4 linked regions of the Homo sapiens genome follow. The protein of the gene in region 1 interacts with the protein of each later gene in a biochemical or structural test. Each region holds a gene or a part of one and is shown in the gene's direction. Other genes may lie near its edges.

Region 1 (3,500 bases):
TATGCTGGATGGATAGATAACTTTTGAAACAAAATATTTAATGCATTTTAAATGGTAGAAGGAAGAATGGTTAGATATTTGGCCCAATGTAAAAATCCCTGCTGTTTAAAAATACTTGTTTTTTTTTGTAGTCCTTCTTTACAGTTTGAAGCTGCATGGGCTTTGACAAACATTGCATCTGGAACTTCTGAACAAACTCAAGCAGTAGTTCAGTCCAGTAAGTTGGTTATTAATAAACATAATTGTGATTTTTTTTAAAAGAAGTCGGTAAAAAATAGTGATCTTCCCAAAAGACTATGGCAATTTAAATTATAAAATAATAGCTACTACGTAGTTATTGAAATAGGTCAACTTAAGTATGTTACTTTAATCTTCTTATTCTGGTGACTGATGTTTTTTGTATTTCCAAAAATTCACTTGATTCCTTTCTAAATATGAGAACATTTCCTAATTATAGTAGCAGATTACATTATTATTGTTACACTTTATTTATAGGACATCAGTAGAAATAAAGGAGTTTTTCCTGTTGCCACATTGCCTCTCAGCCTCTCTTTTTTTGTTTTTGTTTTTTTGTTGTTGTTGTTTTTCTTTCTCAGACAAGATCTTACTCTTTTGGCCAGGCTGGAATACAATGGCACAATCTCAGCTCACTGTAGCCTCGGCCTCCCAGGCTCAAGAGACCCTTCCGCATCAGTCCACCAAGTAGCTGGGACTACAGGCATGTGCCACTGTGCCTAGCTAATTTTTGTAATATTTTTGTGTTTTTTGTAGAGACAGGGTTTCACCATGTTGCCCAGGCTGGTCTCTAACTCTGGGCTCAAGTGATCAACCTGCTTTGGCCTCCCAGTGTGCTGGGATTATAGGCATGAGCCACCACACCGGGCCTCAGCCTCTCTTAATGAGATTTTTCTCTTTTTTTTTTTTTTTTTTTTTTTTTGAGATGGAGTCTCACTCTGTCGCCCAGGCTGGAGTGCAGTGATGCGATCTCGGCTCACTGCAAGCTCCACCTCCCGGGTTCATGCCATTCTCCTGCTTCCGTCTCCCAAGTACCTGGGGCTACAGGCGCCCACCACCACGCCCGGCTAGTTTTTTGTATTTTTAGTAGAGACGGGGTTTCACTGTGTTAGCCAGGATGGTCTCGGTCTCGATCTCCTGACCTCATGATCCGCCTGCCTCGGCCTCCCAAAGTGCTGGGATTACAGGTGTGAGCCACCACGCCCGGCCATATCATATATTTTAAAGAAATCTTCTATAAAGTAGTCCTAGTTGAAAGAATGGCTCGAATTTTTTTTTCATTGTTATTATAATAGGATTGCTTTTTTTTGTTTCAAGAAATGTAAGTGGAAAATTATTGGAAGTAAGAACCCGAGTGTATTGTCTTCATGAATAGTATTTGATTGTTCTACCAAACAAAGAAATTAATAATTTTAAAGAAGATACTTTTAAAATCCTCTTTAAATATGTAAGCAGCATACTTCTCTGAGCTTATTAAAAATGTAAGCACTAATTTGTACATTTTGAAGGGGAACAAAGATGTTATCCAAATAATCATTTTACTGTAGACACTTATGTTGTAATATTACTTAGAAAAGATAATTACCTCACATCCTATTAAAACTGGTTTGGTTTTGGGTTCAGGTGGTTTTTATTGTGGTTTTTTGGTTTTGTATAGCTGACTCTTAGGAAAATTTTTGGTTTCATAACAATGTTTTATTCCCTCTCACACTTTTTCCTTTCTGTTATGTATGCTCTCTAAAGATTAGAAAGAGGCTTAGAATTTTTTTGACCCTGCTAGTCTGCTTTAATATACCAAAAATAATAAATAAATAAATAAATGAGGTTGGGCATGGTGGCTCATGCCAGTAATTCTAGCACTTAGGGAGGCTGAGGCAGGCAGATTACTGGAGTCCAGGAGCTAGAGACCAGCCTGGGCAACATGGTAAAACCCCATCTCTACAAAATGCAGGAAAAAAAAATTAGCCGGGCTTGGTGGCATGCACCTATAGTCCCAACAACCCAGGAGGCTGAGGTAGGAGGATCACTTAAGCCAGGGGAGGTCAAGGCTGCAGTGACCTGTGGTGACACCACTGAACTCCAGTCTGGGCAGCAGAGTAAGGCACTATCTCAAAAACAAACCCATAAGTGAATTACCTTTTATGATATTACAAGCATGATTGAGCTACATATACTTAAATAGTGCTTTTTAAAGTAATATCAGAAGGAAAGAAGAAGAATCATTTGTTCAGTGCAGTATTTTGTTCAGATACAGACCTATCTCTGTTTCCCATCCTGTTGAGTAACAGAATCACTTTCTGATTCGGAAGATCCCACATGGCCCAGGAATCACTGGCCTGTCTTAAAGACCCACATGTTGTTAACATAAATTTGTGTTCAAAAGTTACTTCAGGCCGGGTGCAGTGGCTCATGCCTGTAATCCCAGCACTTTGGGAGGCCAAGGCAGGCAGATCACTTGAGGTCATGAGTTTGAGACCAGCCTGGCCAATACGGTGAAACCCTGTCGCTACTAAAAATACAAAAATTAGCCAGGCATGGTGGCTCACACCTGCAGTCCTAGCTACTTGGGAGGGTGAGGCAGGAGAATCACTGAAGCTTGGGAGGCAGAGGTTGCAGTGAGCCAAGATTCCACCGCTTCCCTCCAGCCTGGATGACAGAGTGAGACTCCGTCTCAAAAAAACAAAAAAAAAGTTACTTCAATAATGTACTTTTTTTTTTCAAACTACAGATAATCTATAAGGAATTAATCTTGAAATTAATTCCAGGTTTAATTGTTAATGAAATTTCACAAGCCTAATTTAACACTTGTCTGGATAACTCATTTTGATACTGAGTAAATAGTCACTGGTCAAAATTCTTCCAATGATGCTATTCCAATAAAATTCATTTAATGAGGTTATATTTTAAGTATATTTTTATAGGTTCCCTTTTTTTTGAGGTCTCAGCAAAAAAATAAAGATTGATTTTTGGTTTATGGTATCTTCAACCTTAAGTATTGTTATTTTTTCTTCCATCAGATGCTGTGCCACTTTTCCTGAGGCTTCTCCATTCACCCCATCAGAATGTCTGTGAGCAAGCAGTGTGGGCATTGGGAAATATCATAGGTTTGTATAAAACTTGTAATACTAGTCTAAAAATTGTTATCATATACTAAGTAATAAAAATAGCTACTAGTAATCCAAAAGAGAAAACAGTTTGCCTTCAGTACTAGTTTTTGTGAAATAGCTTACAGAAATTTGAACTGTATTACTGTAAAAGCATAAAGTCATAGTAAATAGAATTTTTGTTGCTTAAGATACCATTTTTTTGGTATATAGTTAGCTCTTAATTATTTGAATAATTATGCAAGATGTATACAATTTAGACCTTCTGTCTCATGCTAGGATCCATTTTTTCTTCCCCTAACCCCCATGTTGATCAGTGGGGTCCCTTTTTATTTCTCAGCTTTCTCCATCAAAGAAAGTAACAAGAAAAAAGACAAAACT
Region 2 (3,500 bases), on another chromosome or scaffold:
TAAGTTTTCTTGTAAAACAACCAATAACTGTCATTTACTGAGTGTGTACCTTGTGCAGGCACCTACCAGTTCTGCTGGATTCCAGAGGCTGTGATTTTTTTCTTCCCTGCTCAATGCCAAGTTTGGGAAAAGCAGGAAAATGTAACAGTTAAGAATATGAGCTCTAGGGCCAGCCTTTTTAGGTTTCTACCACAGCTCAGCCTTCTATTATCTGTGGTACCTTCAGTGAGTGCTTCAGCCTCTCTCTTCTTTGCCTCCCGATCTGTAAAATGGGAAGAATAATGATACGGACACCTCATGGGGTCGTGTGAAGATGAGTGGAAAGAGTAGAGCATTTCCAAAAGTGTCTTGCACAAGGCAACTACTCAATAAATGCAGCTGTATCATCATCATAATTCCTGGTAGTATCTCTCTGCTTTGACGTAAAAGCGGAATTACCCTCTAAAAACCCTTACCGTATCACTGGCTCCTCAAGTGCTTCTAGTCTGTAGTTATCTGTTTCTGTGTGCTTAAATATAAAACCAGTTCTACTTTCAGGTGTGCCGTAACGCAGAGTTGTCTGACAGACATAGGCACCTTTCCCATCACAAAAGCGTACTGTAGATTTGCCAGAAAGCTCTAATACTAAGATATCTGCTTTGTTTGTACCTCCAGGTATCAGAACTGAAGACAGAACTGAAGTTAAGGGGTCTGCCAGTGTCAGGCACCAAACCGGACCTCATTGAGCGCCTAAAACCCTACCAGGAAGTGAACAGCAGCGGCCTTGCTGCTGGGGGCATCGTGGCAGTGTCATCATCAGCCATTGTCACCAGTAACCCAGAAGTCACTGTGGCCTTGCCGGTTACAACACTACACAACACTGTGACTAGCTCAGTCTCTACTCTCAAGGCAGAATTGCCACCTACAGGAACCAGCAACGCAACCCGTGTGGAAAATGTTCATTCCCCTCTGCCCATTTCACCATCTCCCTCCGAACAGTCCAGTCTCAGTACTGATGACACAAACATGGCAGACACTTTCACCGAGATTATGACCATGATGTCGCCTTCACAGTTCTTGAGTTCATCTCCTTTGAGAATGACAAATAATGAAGACAGTCTGAGTCCCACCAGCAGCACTCTGTCAAACCTGGAACTGGATGCAGCCGAAAAGGATCGCAAGCTTCAGGAGAAAGAGAAGCAAATCGAAGAGCTGAAGAGGAAACTGGAACAAGAGCAGAAGCTCGTGGAAGTGCTGAAAATGCAACTTGAGGTTGAAAAACGAGGGCAGCAGCAGCGGCCCCTGGAAGCCCAGCCCAGTGCCCCAGGTCATTCTGTCAAGTCAGATCAGAAGCACGGCAGCCTTGGCTCCTCCATCAAAGATGAGGCCTCACTCCCTGACTGCTCCAGCTCCAGGCAGCCCATCCCAGTAGCCAGCCACGCTGTAGGCCAGCCCGTCTCTACAGGTGGCCAGACCCTTGTTGCCAAAAAGGCTGTAGTTATCAAGCAAGAGGTCCCTGTGGGCCAGGCAGAGCAGCAGAGTGTCGTCTCGCAGTTTTATGTGAGTTCCCAGGGACAGCCACCGCCTGCTGTTGTTGCTCAGCCCCAGGCTTTACTGACCACGCAGACTGCTCAGCTGCTGCTCCCAGTGTCCATCCAGGGCTCGAGTGTCACCTCAGTGCAACTCCCTGTAGGCAGCCTCAAACTCCAGGTGTGAAGTGTGTCTTCTAACTACTTTGCCTTACAGCATGCATGGAATGCAAACCCTGCTAAGGAAGGCACCATACCTGAGCTCTTCCATAAATGCGTCCAGAGCAGACCCCACGGAGAAAACGTATGCATGTGTGAGAGGGTTATTCAGAAATCTGAATATCTAGCACTGTTTTTATATAGTGAAAAAAACACAGGATGCTTTTCTAGTCCTGTTACCTTTTCCCTTGAATGAACACAGTATCATCCATGCAGACATTTTTTTACACACCAGTGACGTGATCATTGTGATCATAGTCTGCCGCTGAGCACTTTCTGGCAAGGCACAGCATCTAGTACTTTAAATGGCCGGCTTCACTTAATCCTCCCTTCTCCTAGAAGATCTAAGTGATACCACCCATCTCTGGATAAGGACGCTGAGGCCTAGGAGTACTCAGGGAGTTCCCCCAAGGATGGAGCTGGCATTTAAACCCAGGTGTTCTGCCCGCAGAGCCTTTATTCTTATGCCCATTCTTATATTCTGCCTCCCACATTTAGTTCTTGAAAGTCACTGCTTATATGAAGATGTCTAAACTAAGGAAAACATGACCACAAATTTAGGAGTGAGGATGTAATTGAAAGAGATGAGAAAACACTGATGAGCATGAAATTCCCTTTTGTGCGTACATAACCTATGTATTTACCGTGTCATGCAGTTTTGGTAAGTTTTCACCAAACATGGAGCACGAGTGAACAAGAAACCATTTGAAGCAGTGCTCCTCAGCCTCGACACCCAAATACCTGAAACAGGCGAGAGGAATCATCTCGTACCCCTGTGGTTAGGAGGCAGGGCCCACAGACCCTTTGGCAGATGCAAAAATTCTGATTCCTCTGTTTTATCTTTAGGGTATCTGTGAAATTGAAAGTCTATTCCATAATAAATCCTTAAATTTTTTGGTCCAAATCTTCCATTGCTGTAGTAGAAACGAGAACCGTGTTTTTATCCTTGGGTCTGAGGGCGCCCTGGCCCCATTGCTGGCTCTCCCTAGGGAATGCACACACCGCTTGCAAGCAGCAATTGGGACAGTTAGGTCTCACGAGTTGCCTTGCTGTTATTCAAGTATTACAGTACCTGAGCTATTATGTGTAGAACTGCCTTAGGTTCTTATTATTTCCATTTCCATTTTCTCAAAATTTTCAAATGAAAAATCTTAGCTACTTAGGAATAATAAGAGCATGCAGTGACTGGTCTGATGTTTCCCTCTCTGGTTTAGAATCATTAAAGTTCAGATTTCTGTGCAGATGAAGTGTGTATCTGTAACCTTGGTCTTATTTCATTTAGATACAATCCCCAAGTGACCAGTGATTCTACACCTAAGTTCTGATTTCTAACTTTGATTCTGACAATTAAATTGATGTTTTTTTCAATTCACCTCCTAGACTTCACCACAAGCAGGAATGCAGACTCAGCCTCAGATAGCAACTGCTGCACAAATACCAACTGCTGCCTTGGCCTCAGGCTTGGCCCCAACTGTACCTCAGACACAAGACACGTTCCCGCAGCATGTGCTCAGTCAGCCTCAACAAGTCAGAAAGGTTTGTAAATGCCAAGGAGCAATAGAATGTCGCTGATTTTTACCATCCTCCGATCATCCATTCAACAAGCATCTTTGTAAACGCCCTGGGAAGTTCCTGTTCATTCTTTTCTGTGATCCATCTCCCATAGAATGAGCCTTAGGTCAGATGCCATTTGGCTGCAGATTTCCCAGTTATTTGGAATGGAGAAAGACCTTTTCATTACTGAAAGATAGCTCGCCTTCGCAGTTAACCCCT
Region 3 (3,500 bases), on another chromosome or scaffold:
CTGTCTTAACCTAGAACCATACCTTACCTCTTTTTTTTCTTTTGTTTTTAATGACATTGAAGGCCAGTTCTCTTTTCTAATATTTACTACTACTTGTTTCTTCATGGAGTACTTTAACTTGCTTCTCTATCCCTGCATTTTCTATGATCTGTAAATTAGGTCTAGAGCGTTGATTTTAATAACATTAAGCATTCTTGAGAAGAATACTTTTTATATAATTAAAACCTGTGCATGATTTATAACTAAGTATGTGTATATTAGAGGTATATATATATTTTTTTGAGACGGAGTCTCGCTCTGTCGCCCAGGCTGGAGTGCAGTGGTACGATCTCGGCTCACTGCAAGCTCCTGGGTTCATGCCATTCTCCTGCCTCAGACTCCCAAGTAGCTGGGACTACAGGTGCCTGCCACCACGCCCAGCTAATTTTTTATATTTTTAGTAGAGACGGGGTTTCACCGTGTTAGCCAGGATGGTCTCGATCTCCTGACCTCATGATCCTCCCACCTTGGCCTCCCAAAGTGCTGGGATTACAGGCGTGAGCCACCGTGCCCGGCTGCTTTTTAGAGGTATATTCTTAGAAATATTTTTACCAGCCTGGTGTGGTGGCTCAAGCCTGTAATCCCAACACTTTGGGAGGCCAAGGCGGGTGAATCACCTGAGGTCAGGAGTTTGAGACCAGCCTGACCAACATGGAGAAACCCTGTCTCTACTAAATACAAAAATTAGCCAGGAGCAATGGCAGATGCCGGTAATCCCAGCTACTCGAGAGGCTGAGGCAGGAGAATTGCTTGAACCTGGGAGGCGGAGGTTGTAGTGGGCCAAGATCACGCCACTGCACTCCAGCCTGGGCGACAGAGCAATACTCTTGTCTCAAAAAAAAAAAAAAAAAAAGAAATATTTATACCAGACTGGACAACATAGCAAGACACTGTCTCTACAGAAAAATAAAATAAAAATTAGCCAGGCATGGTAGCATGGTCACATAGGCCCGGCTACTTGGGAGGCTAGAGTGGGAGGATGCCTTGAGACCAGGAGGTTGGTTGAGGCTGCAGTGATCCATGATCACATCACTGCACTCCAGCCTGGGCAACAGAGCAGGACCTCATCTCTTAAAAAGAAAAGAATGAAATATTTTTATTAATAAGGGTGCACATTCAAAGAGGTTTAGAGACAATAGGTTATAAATAATTGTTTTAAGGAGTTCTGCTATAGGCCGGGCGTGGTGGCTCACGCCTGTAATCCCAGCACTTTGGGAGGCCGAGGTGGGTGGATCACGAGGTCAGGAGATTGAGACCATCCTGCTAACACGGTGAAACCCCATCTCTACTAAAAATACAAAAAATTTCCCGGGCATGGTGGCAGGAGCCTGTAGTCCCAGCTACTCAGAAGGCTGAGGCAGGAGGATGGTGTGAATCCAGGAAGCAGAGCCTGCAGTGAGCTGAGATCCACCACTGCACTCCAGCCTGGGCAACAGAGCAAGACTCCGTCTCAAAAAAAAAAAAAAAAAAAAAAGAGTTCTGCTGTAAAGAAAAGAGGAGACATGGGGTCGAGAATCATTTTTACTTGTCTTTTAAAGGTTGGATGTTAGAGCTGGACCCCAGCAAAGATGAGAGTCCGCTATAAAAATAACCATAATTATACTTAATCTACAGGTGCTATAATATCGTGGCTCAGGTCACGGGTTTCAAATTTTGTATCTGCTATAACAGCTTTGTGACTGTAGGCAAGTGACTTAACCTCTGTGTGCCATTGTAAAATAAGGAGAATAACTAGACTTAATTGTTTTGGTTCCTACTGATGTTTAACAAATTACTCCAGAACCTAGCAGCTTAAAACAACCTTTTCCTTATGCTCATGGATTCTGTAGGTTAGGAATTTGGGCAGAGCCCAGTGAGGATGACATCTTTTTGATCTGTGATATCTGGGCCCTCAGGTGGGGACTCAATGGCTAAGAACTGGAAGCATGGCTCAGACATCTGCTGGGAGGGCTCCAAACCAGGACTACTGAGCCAAGCACCTGCAGGGTCTCTCCATTGAATGTGACTTCCTTACAACATGACTGCTCAGGCTTCCAGCATGAATATTCCAGTCACCCGGGCAGCCACTGCATGGCTCTCCCGACCAGCCTTGGAGTACCTCAGCATCCAGTAGCCACAAGGGAGGGGACAGGACCCCACCATGCATTGTGGCAGGGTCAAAGAAATCTCAGGCTGTGGGAATTTTGTTACTTTATTGAGGCATAATGTCTACACAATTCACTAGGTGGTACAATTCAATGAGATTTAACAAATGTATAAAGATGCAACCACCATCCCACCATGATAGAGAACAATTCCATTACCCGCAAAAAGTTTCCTCACCAGGACCATGGCTTTTTTTTAATTAAAGTTTTTCTTTTGAGATAATTACAGATTCACATGTAGTTGTAAGAAGTAATATAGAGAGATCACTTATATACTTTGCCCAGCTTCCCCCAATGGTAAAATCCTGTAGTATAATATCACGGTCAGGATGGGAGGCTAAGGCAGGCGGATCACTTGAGCCCAGGAGTTGGAGACCAGCCTGGGCAACATGGCAAAACCCTGTCTCTACAAAAACTACAAAAATTAGCCAGGTGTGGTGGTGCACACCTATGGTCCCAGCTACTTGGGAGGCTGAGGTGGGAGAATCACCTGAGCCCAGTAAGTCGAGGCTGCAGTGAGCTGTGAGCACACAACTGCATTCCAGCCTGGGCAACTGAGACTATCTCTAAAGAAAAGAAAGTCTCCTTTCTAAATTTATAAATCATGTGATTTTTCAGTTGGCACTCTAAAGGTTAGAAATCACTGTGAAAGTTCTGCCAGAAACTGAATATGTCTATTCCATTTATGCATTCAGAAACTGCCAAAATAACCCATGGGTATTGCTTTAAAAAAAAAAAAAAAGATACAGAACATTTCCAGCACTGTAAGGATCCCTCTGTTGCCCTTTTATAGCCACACCCACTTGTCTGCTGCCTGGTAACCACTAGAGAGCTCCATTTCTGTAATTTCATTTCAACAATATTATGGAAATGGAAATGGAATTATACAGTATGTAGCCTTTTGGGATTGGCTTTTTTTCGCTCTGCATAATTCTTGGAGATTCATCCATGTTTGCTTGTATCAATGGCTCATTCCTTTCTCGTCCATCAGCATTGTGCAGTTTTCAGTGTATAAATTTTCTGTTTTTGTTAGATTTATACCTGCATAAAAACAAACAATATTTATTATTTCTGCGTGCTAGCCATAAATACGTGGACACCAAAATTTAAAATACAGTATCATTTGCAGTCAGTCAAAAAAATGCATAGTCTGCTGTTGTTGGGTAGAGTTTTTTAGAAATGTCACTTACATACTGAGAGTTGGTGGTGGTGTTGAGTTCTGTTTGCTTGCTGCTTTTCTGGCTAGTAATACTTTCAACTCTTCAGAAAGGGACATTGAAGACCCCAACTCTGATTATAGATTTGTTTGTTTCTCCT
Region 4 (4,032 bases), on another chromosome or scaffold:
CAGCCACAGCAGCAGCCGCCGGCGGCGCCGCGCTGAACAAAGGTCATCCGAGCTGCGGCCCAGACGCCCGGGCTTGACCGCCGCGAAGGCCAACCCCGGGAAGGGGGTGGGTGTGCGCCTCTGGGGGTGCGGGGCGGCGGGAGGCGGCCGGGGCGAACGAGGGGCGCAGGGCAGCCGGACCCAGGGGCGCGGGTGGGCGCCGGGCAGAGGCGGGGTGCGGCCCCTCGTGCCCACTCCTGCGGGCCGGGGTGAGCGCGTGAGGCTCAGGCCCCTGGGCCTGCCCGCAGTGGCCTGTCCCACCCTGGCCTTGGGGACAGCCGGCCTTCGCGCCCCGCCAGCTGGCTTGGGGGGCCGAGGAGGAACCGCCCGGGCTAGGCCCCGCAGGTTACGAGACGGGGGCCACGTGAGCGCGGCTCTCCTACTCCCCCCGCCGGCGCCGGCCGGGCACAGATGCGTTTCCAGAGGCCTCCGTGCCCCCTCTCCCACTGGCCCTGCCTTCGCCCCCCGCCCCCTCCCCAGACAGCCCCAGTTTTCTTCCCCCGAGGTGAAGGGATTTGGACTTCTCCCCCCAGGTGCTTGAAAGAAGAGAAGGTTGGAGGAGGAGGAGGAGACTGGGGGGCTGCTGGTGGTGGTGACAGGGCTGGGAGAGAGAGGAGAGGGACGGAAGGGAGGAGGGGGCTGGGTGGGGTGGGGGTGACAGCAGAGAGGAGCCTGGTCAACAAGCCAGCACCACTGTGCTAGGAGGCCAGGCCGGCTCTGCAGCCGACGCATCCCGTGTGAGCAGACACACATAGCTCGCTTTCTTGGGGGCTCTTTGTCAGCCACCAACACAGAGAGCACACACTGACACACACGTACACAAAGATCTGAGCCAGGTTGTGGGAGGTAAGTGGGGGAAGGAGAAGGAGGGGGAAACAGTGTCTGCGGTGGGCTGTGGGGTGGAGGGGAGGGGGGATGGGCCCTGAGGGGCTCTGGGGTGCTTGCGAGGTGAGCATTTCCAAGGCTGTGTGCTCGTGGGGTGGGGGGACACACGATGACCTTCTCCTCCTCAGGAAGACCTAAGAGGGAAGAGCAAACCCCAGCGAGATCCCCCCTGTGCTGATGATTTTCAGGGACTTGTTGGCAACTCAGCGAGGGTTGCCATAGCTTTTTTATGTAGGGTGACCAGAACCGGCTGAAACTGGTTTGAGGCAGATCAGCTCCTGAACACAATGCAGTCACTGAGCTACTACAGTAGGATAGCAGCTTCCTCCCTTCATGGCAGCCAAAAGCAGAGGAGCTTGCAGGAAGGTACCATCCCTACACAGTATGTGAATGCACACTTAGACACCACACAGCACTGGTACGTGACTAATGGAGCCCTAAAAGATTCTGGGTAGAGAAGATGGAAAAAAAGGTGCAGGTTTGCAGGGTCTGAGATTACTTGGGCTTTTCCTGCCTTTTTCTTTTGCTTAAGGGATGGACAAGGAGCTGAGATTTATGACCCTTATTAGAGAAAAAAATGTGCCTTGCTAGGGTGGGGACACTTGGTTGATGCAGTCTCTCTCTCTCTTTCTCGGTGTTTATAACAAAACAAAACCAAAATGAACTGAGGGGTTTGTAATGGTAGTTTGTTTGTTGCTGGAGAATGCTACTTTGCATGCTTTTTTTCTCTTGCAGGGTATGTTCTGTCTTGTGCTTTTTCTTTTAGAAGCTACTAAAGGGTGTTGGGGATGCTTCTGACTATTATGAAGGCCAAAAGGTAACAATATCGTTCTAGGAAATGAACATAAATGCATTCCAGTGATGCTGTTAGCCATACATGCTGTCTTTTTTTTCCTTGTAGGCCTGTTGACTGGGGCTGCTTTTAACCCTTTCCTATTTGCTGAGAATGCAGCCGTGTGACAGTAACTGAACATTGGTCTAAAGTCTTTCCAAAAGGTCAAGGTTCACAAGGTGAGATACGCTGTTTTGAGCATGAATTTAAATATTTATTTGCAGATCCATTTAGACACAGACGGACCGTGGATTGCTACCCAGGAGATAAAATTGGGTTCAGAGTGGAGAAGAAATGCTCTTAATGTTATCCCAGTTTAATGGGATTAGAGTGACTTTATGATGGTATTGCGATCAAGGCGAAATCTGAATGCCTTCATTAAATCGCATGTGTCTGGGCAATTGGGAGAGTCAGGCCTGGAAGGAAGCGAGTGTGGAGAATGGTAGGCGTCAGGGCCTTGTGGAGAATGTGCTGTTTTGCATAAGACGAAAGCAGTACACATGTGGCATTTTCCCGATGATTATAAGAAAAGGAAGGGCTTCACCAAATCGAGGCAGCCTAGCCACCTTTTTAGGATTTGAGGAGTCTGAAGGTAGATTTGCCTTTTGTTCATTCATCACCTTTCTTTTACCTTGCTCTCTTGTGTTAACCTGAAAGGTTTTTCACTCCGACTCAAGTGGTGGAATGTCTTTTATTGATTTTGGGGGCTGTTGACGGTGAGTTCGCCATTGGATTCTTTGTGGCATATGTTTAATGTGGAATACTAATGCAATACCAGGGGGAAGCCGGGTAGTCTGGCTTCATCTGTGAAAAGATGCCTGTTAACTCAAAGCTGTACTGGAATGGGTGGTAGAAAATGTCTGATGCCTTTAAAGATCGCAGTTAGGTTTGAGCAGGCATTTTAATGCACCTTCCAAAACCAGAGGTTGGAGAGGAGAGGAGAGAAGGAAGGAGTGAGGAGAGTAGCAAAGTGAAGAACAAAGGCTGAGGGGGCTTGCAGGAGAACACTCAACATTTTGCCTTGGGTTCCTTGTGAAAAGAACTGCAACTTCCCCAAACAGGAAACCAGCAGCTCCAGAATGGGATCCAGTGTGATCTCAACAACAGATAGAACTGGTCCTGCCTTTCTGCTGGTTTTTGGTAAAAGTACAGTCAAGAGGAGCCCATAGAAGACATGACTGAAAATAAAATTTTCCCCTACTTCGAAGTGGGCATTTTGTTCCTCTCCGTGTTCAGCAGAATAGGGGCTTTTCAGCAGTGCCGAGGATCTTGGAATTGGTTAAGTTGTGTGCTGGCAGTTGGTGGGCAGGATATCTGCAGTGAAGGACGTCAAGTATGCAAGGGTTTTATTGTTAAAATGTTTTTCATTTGGCTACAGAACATCCACTATGTGATAAAACTGGCAAAAGGGAAACAAGAGTGCATGGTTAGCTCAGGATACTTTATGGAGTATTTAATAGAGATAAATGTAATCTTGGACGGATATACCAGTAAATAGCTTACATGATGGAACAAAATTCTTTACAAATCACTGTGCTAAAATTGGTTTTCAATTCTCCATCATTTCTGACTGCCAGAGGTTCTGTGTATGAGTGTGGCAGGAATATGCTTGCAAAGCAGATCCGAATCCACGCTGCGCGTGGTGTGCTGCTTCTGCGTTTCTGATGTCAACTAAAACTCAGATGGCTAATATGATAAACCTTAATTAGCTTAATACAATAAGCTGTTTTATTATTTAGTCCTTCATTCTTGTCTTTTGAGAGTCAGTGATTTTTGTTTAACTTTGACAGCTAACCCCTTGCCACGGCTATACAGTGCGAATATGTTTTAAAAAACCTCTTCGTAGGGCATTGCATGTCATGGAATGTTCTGGTTTTCTGTCTTGGTGGTTTTTAGCTTTGTTCCTCTCCCTCCCCCTTGAAGTCTCCTGAAGATAGCATTTGTTTTGCATTTAGACCAATCTTTCCAGCTGCAAATGCTGCTGAGGGTTGGAGAGCTGGTTCTCTGGGGCGGGAGTCATGAGCTCATCTTGGATTGGAGCTTGTCTCAGGTGTTGATCTCATGCTGAGGTATAACAATGTAGCAGGCCCAGGCCTCCCTGGAGTGGGGAGAGTCTTCTGGGCTGGGGAATGTGGATGTGAGTGTGCAGGATGAGCTAGGGCATGTTCCTTCCTGGGAGAGCCAGGGGGGACCCGGTGCCTGCAGTTCCTGTCACCGTGGAGCCCAGAGCCCAGCCCCTGGTCGGCAGTGCCTGTAGCAGGCTCTAAAGACGACCT

Evidence for each region. The genes of interacting proteins can lie anywhere in the genome.
Region 2: the proteins of KPNA4 (region 1) and MRTFB interact in a test that uses a peptide from one of them, tested with the Homo sapiens proteins (one study listed by BioGRID).
Region 3: the proteins of KPNA4 (region 1) and CDC45 interact in a biophysical measurement, tested with the Homo sapiens proteins (one large-scale study listed by IntAct).
Region 4: the proteins of KPNA4 (region 1) and ZNF532 interact in a test that uses a peptide from one of them, tested with the Homo sapiens proteins (one study listed by BioGRID).

Annotation. Positions count from the first base shown.
Region 1 is NC_000003.12:160,527,572-160,531,071, reverse strand, and holds part of KPNA4 (importin subunit alpha-3), read left to right. Parts: intron 1-131; coding exon 132-217; intron 218-3,032; coding exon 3,033-3,119; intron 3,120-3,500. UniProt on the Homo sapiens protein: Functions in nuclear protein import as an adapter protein for nuclear receptor KPNB1. Binds specifically and directly to substrates containing either a simple or bipartite NLS motif.
Region 2 is NC_000016.10:14,245,819-14,249,318, forward strand, and holds part of MRTFB (myocardin-related transcription factor B), read left to right. Parts: intron 1-654; coding exon 655-1,689; intron 1,690-3,107; coding exon 3,108-3,263; intron 3,264-3,500. UniProt on the Homo sapiens protein: Acts as a transcriptional coactivator of serum response factor (SRF). Required for skeletal myogenic differentiation.
Region 3 is NC_000022.11:19,486,420-19,489,919, forward strand, and holds part of CDC45 (cell division control protein 45 homolog), read left to right. Parts: intron 1-3,500. UniProt on the Homo sapiens protein: Required for initiation of chromosomal DNA replication. Core component of CDC45-MCM-GINS (CMG) helicase, the molecular machine that unwinds template DNA during replication, and around which the replisome is built.
Region 4 is NC_000018.10:58,863,645-58,867,676, forward strand, and holds the start of ZNF532 (zinc finger protein 532), read left to right. Parts: upstream 1-1,232; 5' UTR 1,233-1,741; intron 1,742-1,825; 5' UTR 1,826-1,935; intron 1,936-4,032. UniProt on the Homo sapiens protein: May be involved in transcriptional regulation.